Regions from separate parts of the Homo sapiens genome. Here all the other regions are linked to region 2. Evidence: fine-mapped expression QTL. Tissue or cell type: whole blood. Region 2 holds a variant in brackets; each other region holds the start of a gene. Each region is shown on its reference strand, or each on the opposite one. Region 1 holds the start of CYP11A1 (cytochrome P450 family 11 subfamily A member 1). Region 2 has its middle 38 kb from the start of SLC7A10. Region 3 holds the start of HPGDS (hematopoietic prostaglandin D synthase). Region 4 holds the start of TCN1 (transcobalamin 1).

Region 1 (4,795 bases), not on the chromosome of region 2:
GGCCTTTCCTCCTAGCAGGAAGCAAGCCCGATTCTTGGGAAAGGGAAGGGACAGACTCAGAGCCTCAGGGCCAAGGGGTGAGATCCAGCACCCCAGCAGGACAGGAATCTAGCTGGGTGACCTCTCTGAGCCTCAGTCTCCTCCTCTGACCATGGGGACAACAAACTTCGCTTGCAAGGTGTGCGGAGGGTAACGGATGTAGGGAGGCATTTAGTAGGGCTTGTTCTCTAACCACCTCTCTCCGAGAGTTTCAAAGGGAGTGGGATCTGGGGAAGGTTGAGGCCTCAGGCCTGGGAACTAGGAATACTTTCCCTTTTACCCACCACCATCCCAGGCCTGGAAGAAGATCAGAAGTTGGACAGGAGAGGTCCGGCCGCGCGGACGTCACCTTAGCGCGCCACTGTCGGCTCCGGTGGGCTCGGGTGAGCTCGGGTGAACGCAGCGAGCGAGGGCAGAGGCCAGCAGAGGCGAGGAGTGGATGCTGCAGGGCCGCAGGCCGGGCAGAGAAACGCATACCGGGTCGCTCCCTGCTTCGCCGCCGCCTCCTGGCAGGGCCAGCGAAGCCAGTGCTCCAGCGCCCCCGTAACACCTCAAAGCGCACGGAGTCCGTGTTGGGGAACTTGGCGGCAGAGTGACTGGGACCTAGGACCTGCGGTGGGGCCGCCGCCGCCTCCGCGGGGCCGAGCGCCTGGACCTCGCCCTGAGGTAAACGCGGGTCGACCCGGGGGGCGGATGGGCTCGGGCTGTGTCGAGGGGAGGCGGAGGTGAGCGACCCGCGAAGAGCGCAGGAGCAGGCCGGGGGCCACGCTAGGGCGGACCCAATTTCGGAATAGCGCGGCCCGGGCGGCGGCGTGCGCTGGGAGGAATGCTGGGTCTGTCGCTAGCGCCAAACTTGACCACGCTGCGACCTTTTCACTCTGTGCTCTGACCTTCAAATCTCCCTCCCCCGATTTTTTTTTTTTTTTTTTTTTTGAGACAGAGTTTCGCTTTTGTTGCCCAGGGCGGGAGTGCAGTGACATGATCTCGGCTCACTGCAACCTCCACCTCCTGGGTTCGGGCGAGTGTCCTGCCTCAGCCTCCCGAGTAGCTGGGATTATAGACCCCCGCCACCATGCCCGGCTAATTTTTTTTATTTTATTTATTTATTTATTTATTTATTTATTTATTTTTGTAGTAGAGACAGGGTTTCACCATGTTGGCCGGGTTGATCTCGAACTCCTGTCCTCAAGTGATCCGCCTGCCTCAGCCTCCCAAAGTGCTGGGATTACAAGCGTGAGCCACCGCACCCGGCCTTCTCCCAATTTTTAAAACTCGCTGGCTGGGCTGACAGCTACAGGGCCAGGAATTCAAAACTTAGCCTCACCAGTCTCCCCTCCTCAGACCGAGGAGGTTGTTTTGTTTTGTTTGAGACAGAATCTCACTCTGTCGCCCAGGCTGGATTGCAATGGTGCGATCTCGGCTCACTGCAACCTCTGCCTCTCCGGTTCAAGCCATTCTCCTGCTTCAGCCTCCCGAGTAGCTGGGATTACAGGCGCCTGCCACCACACCCAGCTAATTTTTGTATTTTTAGTAGAGACGGGGTTTCATCATGTTGGCCAGGATGGTCTCGAACTCTTGATCTCAAGTGATCCGCCCACCTCGGCCTCCCAAAGTGCTGGGATTATGGGTGTGAGCCACCATGCCTGGCCAGACCTGGGGTTTGGACCCATTAAAGAGCTTCCTTACAGATGGCTGGCGGTCTTGCCACCAATTGTTTCAAAAGTAGATGTCTGGTTTAGAGTACTTAAGACATTCACAGATTCAAATGTTGAATTTTGAAATATCCCTGATATATTTCTGTATTGTATTACCAAAAAAAAAAAAAAAAAAGAAGTTAGACAGGAGTTTGGAACCAGAGAACAGCCTGTTGGGGGAGTGGGGACTACAGCAGGGCTACCCAGGCCCCTCCTCCTCCCTGTCCCTTCGGCTCCCACCCTCTGCCAGGCTTACCTGTAAATCGGGCCATACTTCTGGAAATTCTGGACATGGTGAAGGTGGACTTTGTGTGTGCCCGTCTCCCTCCAGAAATGGTACAGGTTTAGCCAGCCATTGTCACCAGGAGAGGGGATCTCATTGAAGGGGCGAGGACTGCGGGTGGAGATGCCAGCTCCCTCGCCAGTGGGCACCCTGAGACGCCCCAGCCCCTCCCTGGGGGCACTCAGAAAGGTCTGGCAGCCTTTGACCAGGACTGAGCGTGGGGGAAGACCCTTGGCCAGCATGCTGTCCCCACAGCTGTGACTGTACCTGCTCCACTTCAGCGGGGACTGCTAGGATGACTGTAGCCCTGGGCCACCAGGGCCAAGATTATAACTACCAGCTCAAGGCCATACCAGAAGCTGATAAAATGTTCACGTCCTTCCTCCTGCTGCAGGCTCAAACCCGCAGACAGCTCCTCCCCTACTCGGTATGAAGGTTCAGTCTGGAATTTCTGCAGCGTGAGGTTCTCCAAAGGACAGGGAGACCCCTCTGTCTCTGCCCTCAGTGCCAGCCCTAGCAGACTCCTGAAATATCTGCCTGTGCTTTTGCCTGAGCTGGGGCCTCCCACTGGCCCCTGCAGCGGAGTCCATGCCCTGGCAGCCATTGGTCAAGACTGCAGACAACCTGTGTTTGGGGGAAATGAGGGGCCCAAGAGAAGGTCAGAGCTATCTTGCCAGCTTGGGCAACATACGTCTTAGTTATGGCCCCACTGTATAGACACACATCATTGAACAACAGGGATAAGTTCTGAGAAATGCATCCTTAGGCTATTTTATTTTATTTTATTTTATTTTATTTTATTTTATTTTAAGAGAGTTTCATTCTTGTTGCCCAGGCTGGAGCGCAATGGCACAGTTTCACCTTGGAACCCTAATCCTCGTCGTCTCTCCCCAGTTGACCCAGATTTGGGGCTGTAATTCAGTACAGCTGACTCAGAGGGGCTCTGGGTCCCTTGAGCTGAGGTCTGTGGTCAGGCTCCACTCTGGACACACTCTAAGACCTTGGCAAATCTGGTTGCCATGGAACTCAGGATGTCAGCTCTTCCCTGTCCACACACTTGATCTGTGCTGCTTTCCCCTCAGAGCTGCTTCCATACCCCCTCCCATCATATCATATCCCCAGACCCATCCTTCCAGCCCAGGTCAGCCCCCACACCCACCCCCCATCACCCTGCACCTACCACTTTCCCAAACAACAAGGGTCAGTCACCTGTAGAGTTTTCAAGTCATTTCAACAAAATTACAGCCCACTTGGTAAAAATGTGTAGGTCAGAAAACATACATGTGCCATGTAGAGCATTTCATGACAGCAATCTACACTATACCTTATACTTATCATTGGAAGGTACAACTTCTTGCTTTTTTTCCCCAAAATCTTATTTTCTGGCAAATAAGGCATTTAAAACACACATCTAAGAGACAGAAAATAGACTGGTGGTTGCTTAGAGCTAGGGGGATAGAGGAATTAGAGGATGGGACATAAAGTGTGTAGGGATTCTTAGGATGATGAAAATGAAAATATTCTAAAGTATATTGTGGTAATTATTGAACAACTCTCTGATACACTAAAAGCCATTGAATTGCATACTTTAAATGGGTGAATTGTATGGTGTGTGAATTATATCTCAATAGAGCTGTTACCAAACACACACACACACACACACACACGAGTGACATCCTCCTGGCCTCTTCTGTTGTATGTGTCAGCCCATAGATCACCCACAATGGCAAAAGTTGTCCTTACACAGCCACTTGACCCCAGACTCCAATACTGTTGAACCACTTTCAACAAATTTAGAGCAACAGTTTTTAGAAGAAAAAAAAAAAGTACTTATCAAGAGTGGTTGTTGCTCTTCCCGCTGGAGTGACCACTACCTCATCAGTCATGAACCTTCTGATAAAGAGAGTATGGAGAAAGCCTGTTTTGCCTCACTGATGACCTTGAGCCTGGAATGACATCAGCCAAGGAAGGCAGTGTCTCACGAGCAGCGGCAGGGTGATGAGCTTCCACAAAGAAAAGCAGTCTTCCAAGGACTAGTTTTTCCTCCAAGGGTCTCAGCACTGAGGTGACATTTATAACTTTCTGACTTAAAGTCAATCCCATTGTTCTACGCAGCCCCACATTCCTCCCTCAGAAGGAGCCCTAATCGATGTGGCATGGAAGAACTTGTGGTCCTCTTGGCAGCCACCCCAACTTCCGTTCAGGCCTCCGCACCTCCCCCAGTGTTGTGGGGCACTGACCGCCTCCCCAGAAGTGGCCCGGGCTGGAGGTTATTGCCTCATCCTCTCCAATGGCCATGGTCACATCACAGCATAGGCCAGCGATTCAGTTTGGGCCAATGAAACACAGGGAAAGGTTTGCTGTGGCTTCTGGGAGAATAGCTCCCTCACTTCTCTGAAAGAGCTTCCAGAAACACATCACTCACTCCAAACAAGGCTGAATGTATTAGCTGTTTACTGCTGCTTAACAAATTATCCCAAAATTTAGTGGCTTAAAACAATAAATGTTTATTATCTCACAGCTTCCGAGGGTGCAGCACCCAGGAGCAGCTTTTCTGGGTGACTGGGTGGCTGGGTGGCTGGGTGACTGGGTGGCTGGGTGGCTGAGTGGCTCATGCTCAGGGTTTCTCACAAGCGGCTGCCATCCCTGAAGCTTGACCAGGGTGTAGGATCAGCTTCCAAGCTCAGTGGATTAAACTGGCCCTGCTTCAAAACTTTTCAGTGGCTGTTTCAGGACTATTGAGAAGATTAATGAATGATACATACATTTCAAAATATAT
Region 2 (5,788 bases):
TCCTCTCTGCACTCAGAGTGAAGTCCCCCTGGGCTTCGTGATTTGCTCCTCAGCCTCTGCTTCTCTGGCACCTGCTCGTCAAGTTCCCTCTGCATAGGGCCCCCTTCTCCCACCAGCTCTGAGCACTGGGGTCGGTGGAGGGGGCACCCCCTGCCCCTTCCCCTCTGCTAAGCCCGGAGCCCCTGGCTTGGCTGCTCTGGGAACCCTCTTCATCCCCAAAGGAAGGCCTGAGCCCAGGAGCCTGTGAGATCCTTCCCAGGCCCTGGCGCCCCTCTGGTGGGCAGCTGTCTGTACCCCTCTTCTATACTTAGGGGGGATCTGGTGCAGGGGCTTAGGAGCAAGGGAGGTGGCCGGGCCTCTGTAGTTCCTGGAGCTCCCATTTCCTCTTCCACTAAACTCTCAGCATCACCACATGACCCAGACTGTGAACCCAGGGGAGTGCTCGGTTGGGGAGGGGAGTGGAGGGAAACCGGCTCCCTCCTGTCCCAGCCCTGAGCACCAGCACTGCGGTTCCAGCTCCCTGCAGGCACTTCCTGCCTGCTCTGGGAAAGCACAGATGGCTGCCACGCCATCACAGCCCTGGGGTTGAGCCCAGACCCCCGAACCTTGACTGTCCAGCCCTGCCAGACCCCGTCAGGATCCACATAGACCCGATGGGTTGCTCTGTCTCCTTGGCTCTGGCCGAGTCCATGGACAAGGAGCATGGCTCCATCCGCCCCGCTCAGCTCTGTGCAGCCCACAGCCCTGCCTGCCCCACCTGAGGGTTGGGGCTCTCTGGACTGGTCAGGGGTGTGTGCTGTCCCTGCCACCCTGCCCCAGCTGAGGCCTGTACCTGGCAGGGGTCGAGCCAGTAAAATCATTGTCCTGCCCTAACCCATGGTGTCTAGGCAGTATGGGCAGGGCCAGGGAGGGCCCATCCAGCCTCGCACCCCACCACTCACCGTCTTGCTCTCTCCTTTTCACTCCCTCTGTCTCCTGACCTTGGGTCACCTCTTCCCTTTCTTGCTCTCACTCAGTCCCTTCTCTCTGTTTTTCTGTTTCTTATTTTGAGACAAAATCTCACTCTGTTGCCCAGGCTGGAGTGCAGTGGCACGATCTTGGCTCACTGCAACCTCCACCTCTTGGGCTCAAGCGATTCTCCTGCCTCAGCCTCCCGAGTAGCTGGGATTACAGGTGTGCGCCACCACGCCTGGCTAATTTTGTATTTTTAGTAGAGATGGGGTTTTGCCATGTTGACCAGGCTGGTCTTGAACTCCTGACCTCAAGTAATCTGCCTGCCTCAGCCTCCCAAAGTGCTGGGATTACAGGCATGAGCCACTGTGCCTGGCCTGTTTTTCTGTTTCTCTATCACTTTAGTAAGTCCTTCTAGCCCCCAGGACCCCCCAGCCCCTCTCTGTATCTGCACACATTTGTCAGTCTGTCCCTCCACCACTGTCCTTGTTTCCTCTCTCTTCCTCGTCACCCTGCCCTGACCTGGGGGGTTTGTGTCTCTCTGTCTCTCTCCGCCTGTCTCCATCTCCCCCTTATCCTCACTCTCTCTCTGTCTGTCTCTCATTTTCATTCTCTTTCCTTTCCTCTTTCTTTTTATTTTATTTGTATGGGTCCATAGCAGGTGCATATATCTACGGGGTACATGACATACTTTAATACAGGCATGCAATGTGTCATGATCCATCAGGGTTAATGGGGTCTCCGTCCCTCAAGCATTTATCTTTTCTCTGTGTTACAAACATTCTCATCATGCTCTTTTAATTATTTTTAAATGTACAGTAAATTCTTGGTGACTGTCATCACCCTGTTGTGCTATTAAATACTGAATCTTTTTTTTAAAAAAATTATTTTAAGTTCTGGGATACATGTGCAGGACGTGCAGATTTGTTACATAGGTCAACGCGTGCCATGGTGGTTTGCTGCACAGATCAACCCATCACCTGGGTATTAAGGCCTGCATGCATCAATCCTGGATCTTAGTCATTCTACCTAACCATATTTTTGCACCCGTCGACCATTCCCGCTGCCCTCCCCTCCCTCTCTTTCTCCCCCTCTCTCATTCTCTCCCCATTTTCATTTTCTCTCTCTCTTCTCATTCTCTTTCTTCCTCTCTCTGTCTCTGCCTCTGCAATCACCCCTGGTCTTCGCCCTCCCTGTCTCTGCTCCCCGGAGTCCCTGCACGTGGCTTGACAGTGGCCTTGGTAGGACCCACTGGGGTGTTTCTTCGTCGCCCATGGGCCCTCATGCTGTTATCAGTTGGAAATGAATCAGAGATTAGGAAGCGGGGGGAGTGGTGGGGGTGTTATCGCCCAGTGCACACGGGGCTCTCAGCTAATCTCTGGCGGCCCTGGGTTCGAGAGGAAATGCAGTTGCAACACTGAGTCCTTCTTACCGTCACTGTCATGTC[C/T]GCGGCGAGGCTGTGGGGGACACGGGCAAGAGATTGGAGAGGGGAGAGGGAGAGGAGAGAGGGCCTGGCCTGAGCTCCTGGCAGGCGTTTGTACAGGCTCACGTGCACACGTGTGCACACACAGCATGTACACCTCCTGGCCCTTGACACCTGAGCCGTCGCCAGGCCTTGCCTGTCACCCTTCCATTGCCTCTGCATGCCCGCACCTGTCCACGTCTTCCCCTGCCGCCCCACGTCCCCAGCCACCATCTCTCTTCATGGGATGGCAGCTCTGGCCTCATCCAGGCTCTTAGCCAACAGAGTGGCCATATTATTATTATTATTTTATTTTATTTTATTTTTTTGAGATGGAGTCTTGCTCTGTCGCCCAGGCTGGAGTGCAGTGGTGCAGTGTCAGCTCACTGCAAGCTCCGCCTCCCAGGTTCACGCCATTCTCCTGCCTCAGCCTCCCGAGTAGCTGGGACTACAGGTGCCCGCCACCACCCCCGGCTAATTTTTTGTATTTTTAGTGGAGATGGGGTTTCACTGTGTTAGCCGGGATGGTCTCGATCTCCTGACCTCGTGATCTGCCCGCCTTGGCCTCCCAAAGTGCTGGGATTACAGGCGTGAGCCACCGTGCCCGGCCCAGAATGGTCGTATTATTAAATGACCACATGATCGGGCTGCTTTCCGAACTTCACCTTCCCACGGTTCTAGGAAGCAGCCACCATTATCATGGTGGCCTCCAGGCTTGCGTGTCTAGCTCCTGTCCTTCCTGCCCTCACCTCCCACACCCCTTGGCTTCCTAGCACCTGCAGTTCTGCCTCGACCCCTCCTCAGTGCCCCGGCTTTTGCAAATGCTCTCCCCTCTGCCTGGAAAACTCTCCTCCCCATGACAACTCCCATGCCTCCTATGGCACTCGGCTTTCCTGTCCTTCATGAAAGCATCCAGGGTCCCCGAGTGCCAAGCTGCAGCAGGTCCCTTGTCTCGGGGCTTCCACCCTCGAGGCGTGAGCTCCCCCTGTCACCATCCTGCCTAGGGATTATGGGTGTAATTCCTACTTCCTGCTCACCTCCTGCCAGACTGTGGGCCTGATGGGGCAGGGACCGAGCCCTCCAGTCTGTCTAGGGCCTGGCCGCACCAGGCAGTGATTGAATGAACAGATCCATAAACACACCGAGAGACACGGATGTACCCAGGCCCATGCACAGACACACAAATGCAGTCACCAGCCATGCACGGAAACTCACATTGACAGACGCTCAACCTCACAAACGTGCAAACCAAAGTTACCTAGAGACGCACGCAGTGACCAAGACACACACACGCCCACTGTCTTCTGTCTATGCTCTGGGCTCACTGCCTCTCATCCAGCCCTGCCCCTCGGGCAGGATCCCCTGCGGGTGTGGGCCTCCTGCACTGCAGCCCTGGCCTTAGCTCCAGGGGGCCAATCCCATGTTATGGGCCCCCAGCAGGATTCTCTGGGCCCCAGCCGTGGTCTTGCCACGTGACTACTTACAAGTGGCTTTTATGCTAAATGCACATAATAGCACATTGGCATAATATCATTGCCAATACTCACAGGTACCATGGTTCACACAGGGAGCATGGTGTGAAGCTCCTCTTACAGGGCTTGTTAGAGGAAAGTTCCAGCTCAGGCAAAGGCTTGGGGTGGAGCGGACAAAGCTACAGTTTGGCCTTTTCCTCAGCAGCGTCCTGCTTCTAGAATCACCACTAAAGTTAACCCAGGCGAGGGGTTCTCTCCCAGCCTCCAGGAGGCTCCAGCTGGAGGCAAACCGCCGGTCTGGGAGAGGTACAGTGGCCAGGGAGAGGAAGGGTTTCAGGGTGGTGTGGGTGGTAGGGGCTGAAGGCAGGGGCAGCAGGGCAGGGCCTGGAGGCCAGCAGCACAGAGGGTCCCCACCTGGCTTCATTTTGGGGGAGGGGGCTGGGCAGGGTATCTGGCGGAGGAAGCAAGAAGGGGTGGCCTCAGAGACTGGCTTGCGGAGATGGGGCTGCATTCCCTGTGGAAGGGAGTGGGCCTTCACGGCTTCAAGGCCGTTTGTCACCTAAAGCAGCTACGGGCATCTTCTCTCTTCCCTCTTTCTTTTTAGAGACAGTGTCTCACTCTGTCTCCCAGGCTGGAGTGCTGGGGTGCGATCATAGCTCACCGCAGCTGCAAACTGCCGGGCTCAAGTGATCCTCCCACCTCAGCCTCCTGAGTAGCTGAGACTACAGGTGGGCACCACCATGCCCAGCCAATTTCTGTATTTTTTGTAGAGATGGCTGTGTTGCCCAGGCTAGTCTCAAAGTCCTGGCCTTAAGCAATTCTCCTGCCTCAGCCTCTTAAAGCACTGGTATTAGAAGAGTGAGCCATGGCGCCCTGCCTCTCTTAAAGATGGCTTTAACCATCACTTACAGCACAGCTGCATCCCTCCTTGGCGGGGTGGGGGAGATTCTTTCCCACCTCTCTGAGTGTCCCCATCTGGGTCCTTGCTCAGTGAGAGCCAGACTTTCTGCTATAACCAGGCCCTGAATGAGAGAGAACCAGAGTCATGTGCTGTGCACCAAATGCAGTGGGAAGACACGAGGGATGCCTCGGTGACCTTCTTTTCAAACAGGAGTCTTTCCCTGGTAACCTGCCTCTGACCTTCCATCAGCCAGATGTTATCTTCCCAAGGCAACAGTGTTCCAGAATTCTTTCTGAGGTGGCCCTGGCAGCTTCTGGGTCCTTCTATTCTGATTTCCAGTTTTCTTTTTCCATTTATTTATTTATTTATTTATTTATTTATTTATTTATTAATTATAGGGTCTTGCTTTGTTGCCCAGGCTGGAGTGCAGTGGCACGAACACAGCTCACTGCAGCCTCAAACTCCTGGGCTCCAGTGATCCTCCCGCCCCAGCCTCCTGTGTAGCTGGGACTACGGGCATGCACCACCATGCCTGGCTAACTTTTTATAGAGATGGGGTCTCACTATGTTGCCCAAGCTGGTCTCAAACTAGCAGACTCAGTGATTCTCCTGCCTCAGCTTTCTGAGTAGCTGGGACCACAGGTGAGCACCATTATGCCTGGCTAATTTTTTATAGAGATAGGGTCTCACTATGTTGCCCAAGCTGGCCTCAGACTAGTGGGATCAAGTGATCCTCCCACCTCAGCCTCCTGAGTAGCTGGAATTACAGGCATGTGTCACCATACTGGGCTAGTATTTGTATTTTTTGTAGAGACAGGGTCTTGCTATGTTGCCCACGTTGTGCTTGAACTCCTGGGCTCAAGCGATCCTCCCACCTTGGCCTCCCAAAGTGTTGGGATTACAGGCGTGAGCCACTGCACCCGGCTCCAGGTGCAGTGGAGCCGGCCCAGGCCTCACCCTTTCTCCAGACCTCACATTCCCAGGCTCGTTGAAGGGAGCAGG
Region 3 (5,788 bases), not on the chromosome of region 2:
GAATCATGGGGGCGGTTTCCCCCATACTGACTTCATGGTAGTAAATAAGTCTCACGAGATCTGATCATTTTATAAGGGATTTCCCCTTTAACTTGGCTCTGGTTCTGTCTTGCCTGCTGCCATGTAAGACATCCCTTCCTCTTCCGCTATGATGGTGAGGTCTCCCCAGCCATGTGGAACTGCAGTGCAGTGGCGCAATCTGGGCTCACTGAAATCTCCGCCTCCTGGGTTCAAGCGATTATCCTGCCTCAGTCTCCCAAGTAGCTAGGATTATAGGTGTGCGCCACCACATACAGCTAATTTTTGTATTTTATTTTTTAGTGGAGATGGGGTTTCACCATGTTGGCCAGGATGGTCTCGATCATCTGACCTTGTGATCCGCCTGCCTGGGCCTCCCAAAGTGCTGGGATTACAGGTGTGAGCCACTGTGCCTGGTCTAAACCTTTCTTTCTTTCTTTCTTTCTTTCTTTCTTTCTTTCTTTCTTTCTTTCTCTTTTTTTTTTTTTTTTTTTTTTTTTTTTTTTTTTTTTTTTTTTTTGAGACGGAGTCTCTCTCTGTCGCCCAGGCTGGAGTGCAGTGGCGTGATCTCCACTCACTGCAAGCTCCACCTCCCGGGTTCACGCCATTCTCCTGCCTCAGCTTCCCGAGTAGCTGGGACTACAGGCACGCGCCACCACGCCCAGCTAATTTTTTTGTATATTTAATAGAGATGGGGTTTCCCCGTGTTAGCCGGGGTGGTCTCGATCTCCTGACCTCGTGATCCGCCTGCCTCAGCCTCCCAAAGTGCTGGGTTTACAGGGGTGAGCCACCGGGCCCGGCCCGCCCCCCTCCCTTTTTTTTTTTTTTTTTTTTTTTTTGAGACGGAGTTTTACTCTTGTCGCCCAGCCTGGAGTGCAATGGCGTGATCTCGTCTCACCGCAGCCTCTGCCTCCCGGGTTCAAGCGATTCTCCTGCCGCAGCCACCAGAGTAGCTGGGATTACAGGCACCAACCACCACGCCCGGCAAATTTTTTTCTTTTTTTTTTTCTTTCTTTTTTTTTTTTTGAGACGGAGTCTTGCTCTGTCGCCCAGGCTGGAGTGCAGTGGCGCAATCTCGGCTCACTGCAGCATCCGCCTCCCGGGTTCAAGCGATTCTCCCTGCCTCAGCCTCCCCAGTAGCTGGGATTACAGACGCCCACCACCGCGCCCAGCTAATTTTTGTATTTTTAGTAGAGACGTGGTTTCGCCATGTTGGCCAGGACCTCCTAACCTCAGGTGATCCGCCAGCCTCGGCCTCCCAAAATGTTGGGATTACAGGCTGAGCCACCTCGCCCGGCCAAACTTTTTTTTCTTTATAAATTACCCAGTCTCAGGTATGTCTTAATCAGCAGCGTGAAAACTAACTAATACAATGCTGATTTATTTCATCTGATTAATTCAATCCCAGAGGCAATTTTAACATAATCATTGAAAAAATTACAAACTTTTATAATAAAACAATTTAACAATATATTATTCCGTATACTGCTGTAAAAGCACAGTAAAAAATAGTCTCAAAAATTCTAGTCTCTGTGCCAGAAAGATGACAACAATCCAATTTCAACTCTCTGACAACACAGGCTAATCAATATCCAATGCCTATACTAAACATCTTAATAAAGACTTCAGCCGAAATATTTTTAGTTCAAAAAAGAGAACTTTTGGAATAATTTTGTTAGATAGAAAACTTACAAATGAGGAATTAAGTATTGACCATTCTACAGTTCAATACAAAATGTTAGCCAACGTAAGCTCTTACTCTTAAATACGACACATCAAGAATTCAAACATATTTGGGCATTCCAGACACAGTTTTTTACATGCTTAGTAATTGCGCAATAATCTGAGTTAGAGATATAAAAACAAAGATTACTTGTGAATTTGCTATAGCTCTTCTTTGAGTTTAAGATGCAGATCTTAACTTGCCCAGTAATAAACTTATACAAAATGTAATGGCCTAGAGCATGTTTACACTCCTATTATATAGACCCTGGTGTTCTGAAATGTAAAAATTGGATTCAGACAGCAATCATGTGAGATACTATTGTTCACAGGGGAACTTCTTGCATATACTGACATTAAAACAGCTTTTTATTACCCCTAACATTTGATGGTAAAGAATGTTAATTTCCCTCATTTCACAGTGTCCCTGGGCATTTCAAGTTCAATTCTGGAAAAGTTGCCAGGTTGGAGTTAAATTATAGGACAATAGAGAAATAGAAGAATTGTTGTTGACTGAGTAAGATATTGATTTCAATCAAGCACTGGATGTTTAACTTTGAATTAGCAAGCTGAAAGCTCTATTTTTTTTTTTTTTATCAAATATCAACTAAATGTCATTTTAAGTGACTGTTTCACATTAAAGCCAAAGCAAGAGGAATAACTGAAATATCCTTTGGGAGCTGTGAGTTGAAATTCCTGGCCTGGGGTAAATCCCTTAAACCATCTCTGAAGCCAAAAGATGATAGGTTGCAATTCTTATCAAAACATGGAGATGCTTCAACAAAATGTGCCTTAAAATAATATAAAATATTACCAGTAAAAGTCTTAAACTTTAAAGCAAAGGAAAGAAATTGAACAGCCATGAGATAATATTCTCTACTCCATCAATCCAAGTTATTGAAGAATCACTTGGGAAAATTCTGGAAGTAGTAACAAACCCTGATTAAGACAGGATTTTTCCTCTAGCATTGATTATATTTTCTATGTTAAAATCCACTTGAAGAGATCTTCTTAAATCTCCTGTACCTATATTTCCTTAAAAATGACTATTTGAGTTTCACATATTCGCATATATGGAGAGGTTCTGGGTAAGACAAGGTCAGAGTGAGCACCATCATGAAAATAGCTCACAAGACAGTTAGTCACAAACAGGATATGAGAATAATAAAAACTCTGAAGTAAAGAGTAAAGCATATCTCATTTATTACCTATGTGGAGTTCAGTAATATGACTTACCTGTGTTATGTCTCTCGGGAGTCTGCAGTGTCTTGTATCCCTGGGTATGTGACTGTGCCTTGGGTTTATATGACGAGTAAGTGATAATCACGAGCCAGTGAGAGGACAGGCAACTTCCTTCTACCTAACGCTCTTCCTTCTTTTCTTAGATAAAACATGCATGCCAGGCAGTTCAAGCCTGCGAAGACTGCTGGTTATACAGGATATCTGGGTATAAATAAACCAACACATTTGTATACAAGGTAAAGTCAAAGTTATAGCTGCATATGTATGCCCACTGTTACATGTTCACTTATTTTCAGTTTTACACCATAGGCTCCTGGAGAATAAGAAAACCTGAATGTAATGAAATCATCTTTGCAGATGTGCACATGACTTGCTTCTCTATTTTAGAAACAGTCTCTCCTGTACCTGCTGTATGTTCCTTCGAGGCAGTGTCTAACAATGTGGTGTATTTAACTTGTTTGTTTTTGGTTTCTCCCAGTGGAATGTAAGCTCTGTAAAGGCAGGCACTTCACTGTCTTTTTCACTATTGTCTCCTCAGTTCTAAGAGGAGTGCCAGGCATGTCATGACCACTAATATACATCTGATGATAGAATAACCCTAATTTATAGTTCACGTTTTTGCAAGGACTGTAAATTTGCATTGTTGCTGGTTTATTTCATTTACTCTCATTTCTCAGAAAAGCCAAAGTGTTTAAAGTAAACCTGGTGTAGAAGTTTCCAATTCATCTTGTTTGTGATCCTTTTACAATTTAGTAACAAATGCCTGACATTTTAGAAATTTATTGTTTCACTTCTTAGTGCAGGAATTATTTTTATCTATAATATTAGGACAGCTCAGTGAAAAGATCCAATAAAATGCCTGCCTGGGCCTTACTGAGCCTGAGGATTATCCATGAAACATTTCAATGACCAGCTGGCTTTCAACTTCCAGAAAATTACTCCCACAGGCAACAATAGCAACATATCAATCATTTAATATTTCTTATTTCTAAAGTGCTTTTAATTTTGAAAAATATGTTTACATCCACTTAGTATAAACGTCAGAAATGAAAATAAATGTAAATACTAGTATGTAAAAAGAGAAGACGCAAGTGTAGCCCTTTACCCACCAAAAAAGGATACATGTGTGTCAAAATCAAGTGCAAATGGGATGGGAGTGGGAGCTATACAAAATTAACACAATGCATTTATTATCTTTGACAGCTTTAACTTATATTTTCAAAAAAATCTTTTTATCCTCACCTCAATGATTTTTAATCCCTATTTTTATAAATGAGGAAACTGAGACATAGGGAAATTAGGTAAATTGCCTGCGAATTTTTGTTGGGACAAGCTAGGATTAAAATCTAGGCCTTCTGATGACACATTTAATATTTTTCCTTACATAATGCTGCCTATATATAATACGAGACTGCTTCAGTTAAAAAAAAATCAAGTATACAAAAAATAACACTTTTCTCATTTTGTATTACAATTTTATCTTTTACGACCAGTTGTTTTGGCTGGAGGAAAGCAGAGTAACACATCAAGGATTGGGGAAGGAGCAGCCACTTGATCCTTGGTCACCGATCAACAGAGGCTGCTCTAGAGGCATCCATTGTCCTTGTGTGCATGGCCTCCACGCCAGGAGCTCTCTGCAGCTCCTGTAGCATTCTCATTTTGCTACCTTCTTGCCCCAGTGTGGTGGTTTCATCACAACGCTGCCTGAGATTCCACCTGCCCAGTACCCAACAGAGCCACTTCTTCTCTGTGGTCTTTCTACCTCCCTGGAGGCACAAGAGGGTCCCAGGAGAGGGTCCCAGATCTCCTCTACTCGGGAAGCACAGCTTTCCCATCCTCTTGTCTCTTCTCCCAGCCCAGGTGGGGGTGCTCTAACTCTCCTAGTCTTCTACCAGCTGTGGGCCTTTGGGCAGGTAACTTAATCTCTCTGTGCCTGAGCTCCTTCACCTTTAGATGGAGATTGATTCTACAATAAATATTTATTTGTTCCTAATCTTTGCCAGGTATTGTTCTGAACGCTAGAGATATAGCAGTAAATAAGGCTGGGCGCGGTGGCTCACTCCTGTAATCCCAGCACTTTGGGAGGCCGAGGCAGGTGGATCACAAGGTCAGGAGATGGAGACCATCCTGGTCAACATGGTGAAACTCCATCTCTACTAAAAATACAAAAATCAGCCAGGTGTGGTGGCCCACGCCTGTAATCCCAGCTACGCGGGAGTGTGAGGCAGGAGAATCGCTTGAACCCGGGAGGCAGAGATTGCAGTGAGCCGAGAGCGTGCCACTACACTCCAGCCTGGCGACAGAGCGAGACTCCATCTCAAAAATAAATAAGTAAATAAATAGAGATATAGCACTAAATAAAATCAGACAAAAACAAATCTTCATGGAGCATTCTAACAATATTAGTAATAACTCTCTCATAAGCTTTTACAGAATTAAATGAGTACACAGATATGTGCTTCAAAGTGTGCCTAATGCATAGTTAGGGATCCATGAGTGAGAGCAATTGTTAATATTATTAGCAGTTCACCTGAAGGGAAAATCGTTTCCCTTCAAGAATCTATGCTCAAGAATTCTTTCCTTTTCTGTGGTTGGGTTTGGGCACTAACAGCAGAAAGAGAAGTAGCTGTCAGGCAACTTTCATTTTTCACCCTGCTTCATCCTCTTCTGAGGAAATGAGCACGGAGCCAAGTGTCTACTGGAATAGGGAGGAGGAAAAGGGCAAGGGCAAAGTGAAAACCCCTCATGGATTGTTACCTCTCAGTTCCCTGCTCTCCAGGGCAGTGACTTCTTCATGCCACACACC
Region 4 (5,788 bases), not on the chromosome of region 2:
TTCTGCCTTTTAGAGTATCCAAACTCTCAGGATTCTCATAATTCTTATAATAATATTATGAGGTAGGTAAGAGTGGCTTCTTTTCCCCTTATACTAATTAGAAAACTGAGGCTCAGTATTAACATGACTGGTTCAAGGCCCACCCATACCTAGTTCAAATCTGGGTTGTTCCATGGTTGCCTTTCCATCACCAGCTTTCTTAGTTATGATCTGTATTCCCATGTGGTTGTGAACTAAGCTAGCTTATATAACAGCATTAATGGATAAAAATCCATAGCTTTTGTTTGTGGCTTCTTGAAGAAAAGTGGTTTTTAAGACCAAAAGAAGCAAGACCTAGCTCTAGGGTGAATGGCATGGGATTGTATTTTGGGCATGTTTCTGTTACCTCAAGTTTGGTACCATTAGAAGGGATGTAGCAGGGATACTTTGGATGCATAATTTTTTAGGATTAGTTGCAGATAATCTTTAAATAGGTAGATTTTTTTCTAAATCTTCCAGAATATACAGCAACTTACATCTGCTTTTCACATTGTATTTGATTTGTTGGATCATCTTTTGCATCAGGGTTTGGATCTGGATTCCAACAAGTTTGAGGGACAACACAACATTGACAGCGCTGGTTCCCCTGTTATAGTTTGACTGGATCATTGTATTCAACAGAGGTTTTAGGCGGATGTAGTTTTCTTCACTTACCTCTGTGGCAGAGAAGGAAGGAAATAAGAAACACATACTCAGAAAATAGTAAGACTTGCAGCAGGGGTTATATAAAAATATTTAGTAACAGATATGGCACAGACCTAGACCAATCCAGTGGCTGCAGACTGTGTTGGTGGAATAATACAAAGGTGGGTCTTGAACCCACCCCCATGCCAGACATTACTCCTTTAACAACCAACATGAAAATGTTTTAATATTTTAACAACTGGTGCAGACTTATCATTGTGTACTGGCAGACTCCTGCCTGGGAAATCTAGCATCATTCCCTAATTTTGTATATGAAGCTTAGATAGATTGTCCTTAAAGAAACTTCCATAATTGGAGGCTGAGCTGAAACTAGACTACATGTCTTCTGACTCTCAGTAAGCAGGACTTTCTACTTCCTGGATTCAGTTCTTTCCTTCTCCATCTTCTAAATCAACTGGGTTAATGTTGAGAAAATGCAGGTAATAATTCTGTGTTATACTGGTGATTGACCCCAAAACTTCATTGTCTGATTACCCAGCTGGCTGGGCATCGAGATCATTATTTAGCATTATGCAGCCTGTAAAAAACTCTCCAGTTTTAGCCTACAATATGCCCCAATTCCAGAGATGGAGGGAAGTCACATTATACTGTGGAAGTAGGAAAATCCATAGCTCCCAAGGAAATAGAGGAGAATAAAAAGATTTACTATTTATTTAAACACAGGACACTTTGTCAATGTATTTTTCCATAATCTTGAGGAGTAGCCCCAAATCCTACATATCTCCAGATTATCTAATGGATTAGTGGGAGAGTGAGAAGAACATGAGGTTTGGATTCAGATTTTGGCCACATTTTGTGCTCCTTAACTTATGACTGTGGATAATAACTTATGTAACTTGTTTTACTCTTAGTTTTCTCATTTAAAAATTGTGGCTGTTAACACTTACCTTACAGATATTGGACAAGAAACCACCGAATAAACTGTAAAATGCTGCACATACTATTATTTCCAGCTCAACTGGAGTTTTTATCACTATACTTGAGAATCAAGGAAATGTAATTTCTCTTGCCCAGTTTTCTTTACTTTAAAAGAATGAGTCAAGAAGATCTGAATAGAGTGATTGTAGAAAGGTCATGGTTTGTTGCAGACACAATGGAACAATTGTGAGTCAGTTCTCTGAGATTTTGTGGAACCATCCAGCTCAGCAGATTTTCTGGCCCTGAAACAGACTTTTTAGTTCCTGATCAACAACTCAAATCAGCTTCCTTGAGTCTCAAAGATAAATTTAATTATTATCATTATTATTTAAAATGAATTGAAAGCTAAAACCTACATAGCCATTCCCTATTCTTAGGATCCAACAGGGGAAATGTCAAGCCAAGAAGAAAAATCAGAGTCAGAAGAGTCTATGCTTTAGCCTGTATGTATACAAGCCTGTCTTCTGTGGTGTTCTCTTCTTACTGGTTAGAGAGCACAGATAGTACCACCTAGTAATCTTTGGACTGGTTTGAAGCTCAATTTCAGAGTAAAGTCTCACAAAAGAGAATTCATGCACTTGAGAACTGCACCAGACTTCATGAGATAATTTGCTTCAATAGTCTCCCCTCATTATCCTTTATTTATGAATGAAGCTAAAGAAATTCAGAAATGTTGGGTCATTCAATAACTAAGGGATCAAACTAAACCTGAATTTAGTTTTCCCTTCTCTTACTTTAAAGTTCTTTTACAGAACCACACAATCTCTGGGGTCAACACCCATGCAAGAGATGATGGAACTTTATCCCATGTGTCCTGGGAAAGAGTTGAAGGAAGGTGGACATGCAACTTGGAACATCTAAACTCACTCATGACAAGACAGCAGTCATCACTATTTGAAAGAGATTATTATTTTTTTCTATGTAGTTACAAGGGGTTAACCCAAAAATCATGCATTGAATTTCAGGGAAAAAAGATTGCATATCAAGACCAAAAGATAACTTTCCATGATCTAGAAAAGTTTCTGGGAGCATAAATTTTCTGTCATTGAAAAGTCACATGAATAGGGAGTTACTTGGTAGGGATGCTGTGCTAGAGAGGATCTGAGCATAGAAAGAGCAGTTAGGCAAGTGAATACACAATCTATAATTCCTCTTACAACAACATGCATTGTGAGACTTTCCTCACCATCTCCTGCCACCCTTTTCATCATTCATGGAGTCCAACCACATACGAAACTGGAATGGGATCTTTTCTCAGGTAACTCTACATAGAGTCTCTTGTCAACAGTTTTCAGTAGACTATCACTCTAGAGTAATTTTAGCTCAAAGTTTACTCACCACAAATCTCGCATAGTTGGCTTGGAATAAAAGAAAACAGTAAGAGCCCCACTAGGGGCAGCTGGTGTGACTGTCTCATCTCTCCAACAGTGTACCAGAATGTTGATGAATTGGCTGGCTATTTATTAAGTGATGGGCAGAAGGTAATGAGAGCTCCTCCTTCAGGTTGCCTCAGCCTCTTTTCACTCAAGCAAATATTGAGCAATGTCAGGAGGTGTGGTCAAGTGTATTTGTCCATGTGATGTAATAAATAAGGAAGAAGACTTGAAGGATGTGGTTAGGGAGAATAAGGCAATAACTTTCCTTTGTCTCCTGTCCTAAACCTTCGGGTTTCATATCTATTATTTGCCTTCCGTGCAGTGAAGATATATTAGGCAAATGACTGTTTCCTATAATCTTTCCTTTTTTTTCCGTTTCACTTTATGTTTTATGTTTCCTGATAAAGTAGATTTGATCATGCAAACACATACAACATATAAAAATGGAAGTAAAAGAAGACATCCAAATGGGAAGCAGGCATATGAAAAAGTGCTTGAAAAGGTGCTTAACATCATTGATCATCAGATAAATGGAAATCAAAGCTACAATGAGATATCCTCTCATCTCAGCTAAAAATGGCTTTATTCAAAACACAGGCAATAACAAATGCTGGCACGGATGTAGAGAAAAGGGAAGCCTTGTACACTGTTGGTGGGAATGTAAATTAGTACAATCACTATGGAGAACAGTTTGGAGCTTCCTCAAAAAACTAAACATAGAGCTACCATATGATCCAGCAATCCCACTGCTGGCTATATACCCAAAAGAAAGAAGACCAGTATATTGAAGAGATATCTGCACTCCCATGTTTGTTGCAGCACTGTTTACAATAACCAAGATTTGGAAGCAAGCTAAGTGTCTATCAACAGATAAATGAACACAGCAAATGTACATATACACAATGGAGTACTATTCAGCCATATAAAAGAATGAAATCCTGTCAGTTGTGACAAAATGGATGGAACTGGAGATAATTATGTTAAGTGAAATAAGCCAGGCACAGAAAGACATACATTGCATGTTCTCACTTATTTGTGGGATCTAAAAATCAAAACAATTGAATTCATAGAGATAGAGAATGAAAAGATGGTTACTGGGGGCTGGGAAGGCTAGTGGTGGGAAGGAGATGCGGAGGGTTAATGGGTACAAAATATTGGAAAGAATGAATAAGACCTACTATTGGTAGCATAACAGGGTGACTATAGTCAATAATAATTTAATTGTACATTTTAAATAACTAATAGTATAACTGGATTGTTTGTAACGTAAAGGATAAATGCTTGACAGGATGAATACCCCCTTCTCTATGATGTGATTATTACGCATTGCATGCCTGTATCAAAACATTTCATGAGCCCCATAAATATATACACCTACTATGTACCTACAAAAATTGAAATAAAAAAATTTAAAAACGGAAGTAAAAGTTGTAAGTCTGAAATTGAAGCAGGCAGTATTGGAGAACCCAGCACATGAGGGGATCTTTGGCATAGTGGTTTCCAAACTATGATTTTTCTCCTAAGATAGATTCCATGAGAGTTTCCTAACCAAGGAGGAAAACCAGAGAGCTATACATCAAATGTGAATTTCTGCCCTGCCAGGGCAGTTGCTACATGTGAGAAGTGTTGCCTATCACAGTTCTTCTGAGAACTATTAGAGAATACTGTCAGCCTAGCTAAGGATGTCATGACTTAATGAGCCACTATTTGCATTGTACCTCTGTGATGGTTAATTTTCTGTGTCAACTTGACTGGCACCTGAGTGCCCAGATTAAACACTATTTCTCGATGTATCTGTGAGGGTGTTTCCAGATAGGATTAGCATTTTAATTGGTGGACTCTGGAAAGTAGAATGCCGTCTCCAATGTAGGTGTGCATCAATCAATCTATTGAGACCCTGAATAGAATAAAATGGTGAAGGAAGGGGGAATTCACCCTTTTTTTGCTTCCTGCCAGCCTGTTTGAGCTAGGACATCTTATCTTCTCCAGCCCTCAAACTGAGATTTACACCATCGGCTCCCCTGGTTCTTGGGCTTTCAGTTTGGCCTGAATCACTCCACTGACTTTTACTGCATGCAGACAGTAGACTGTGGGACTTCTTAGCCTCCATAAGGGCATGAATCAACTCCTTGGAATAAATCTCTTTCTCTCTCTCACATATTTATATAAAACTTATGTGGAAACCACCATTCTACTCTCTGTTTCCATGTATTTGATAATTTTTAGAATCTACATATAAATGAGATCATAGTATTTGTCTGTGACTTATTTCATTTAGCATGATATTCTTCAGGTTCATCCATGCTGTCTCAAAGGGCACTATTTCCTTCTTTTTTATGGCTGAATACTATTCTATTATATAAATATAAATATATATATACACACACACACATATATGTGTGTGTGTATATAAATCACAATTTTTATCCCTTCATCCATCAACAGATATGTAGGTTGTTTCTATGTCTTTGATATTGTGAATAATGCTGCAATGAACATGGGAGTACATATTTTATATAATATATATTTTTGTTTGTTTGTTTGTTTGTTTGTTTGTTTTTGAGACAGAGTTTCTCTCTTGTCGCCCAAGCTGGAGTGCAATGGTGCAATCTCAGCTCACTGGAAACTCCACCTCCCGGGTCCAAGTGATTTTCCTGCCTCAGCCTCCAGAGTAGCTGGGATTACAGGTATCTGCCACCACACCGGCTAACTTTTCTATTTTTTTTTAGTAGAGACAGGGTTTCAACATG

Evidence for each region. PIP is the estimated chance that this variant, and not a neighbour inherited with it, causes the effect.
Region 1: CYP11A1 starts here. The variant in region 2 is fine-mapped to the expression of CYP11A1 in whole blood (TOPMed, PIP 0.99).
Region 3: it holds the start of HPGDS, and the variant in region 2 is fine-mapped to the expression of HPGDS in whole blood (TOPMed, PIP above 0.99).
Region 4: it holds the start of TCN1, and the variant in region 2 is fine-mapped to the expression of TCN1 in whole blood (TOPMed, PIP above 0.99).

The regions. Positions count from the first base shown.
Region 1 is chr15:74,365,328-74,370,122 of GRCh38, forward strand. CYP11A1 (cytochrome P450 family 11 subfamily A member 1) reads right to left here and starts at 2,319. Exons shown (of 9, transcript NM_000781.3): 1 at 1,990-2,319. The coding sequence starts at 2,258. It overlaps LOC124903524 (a long non-coding RNA gene), which reads left to right and starts at 135. Exons shown (of 2, transcript XR_007064709.1): 1 at 135-178; 2 at 335-4,795. RefSeq lists a silencer at 702-861, a promoter at 2,269-4,671 and enhancers at 2,451-2,475, 3,897-4,019, 4,189-4,247.
Region 2 is chr19:33,261,244-33,267,031 of GRCh38, forward strand. No RefSeq gene overlaps it. Among named protein-coding and RNA genes, the nearest start is that of SLC7A10, 38 kb to the left of the region's middle. The variant C/T (reference allele first, on the strand shown) is at 2,399.
Region 3 is chr4:94,339,819-94,345,606 of GRCh38, forward strand. HPGDS (hematopoietic prostaglandin D synthase) reads right to left here and starts at 3,018. Exons shown (of 6, transcript NM_014485.3): 1 at 2,977-3,018.
Region 4 is chr11:59,863,392-59,869,179 of GRCh38, forward strand. It overlaps TCN1 (transcobalamin 1), which reads right to left and starts at 3,096. Exons shown (of 9, transcript NM_001062.4): 1 at 3,001-3,096; 2 at 516-695. The coding sequence starts at 3,079.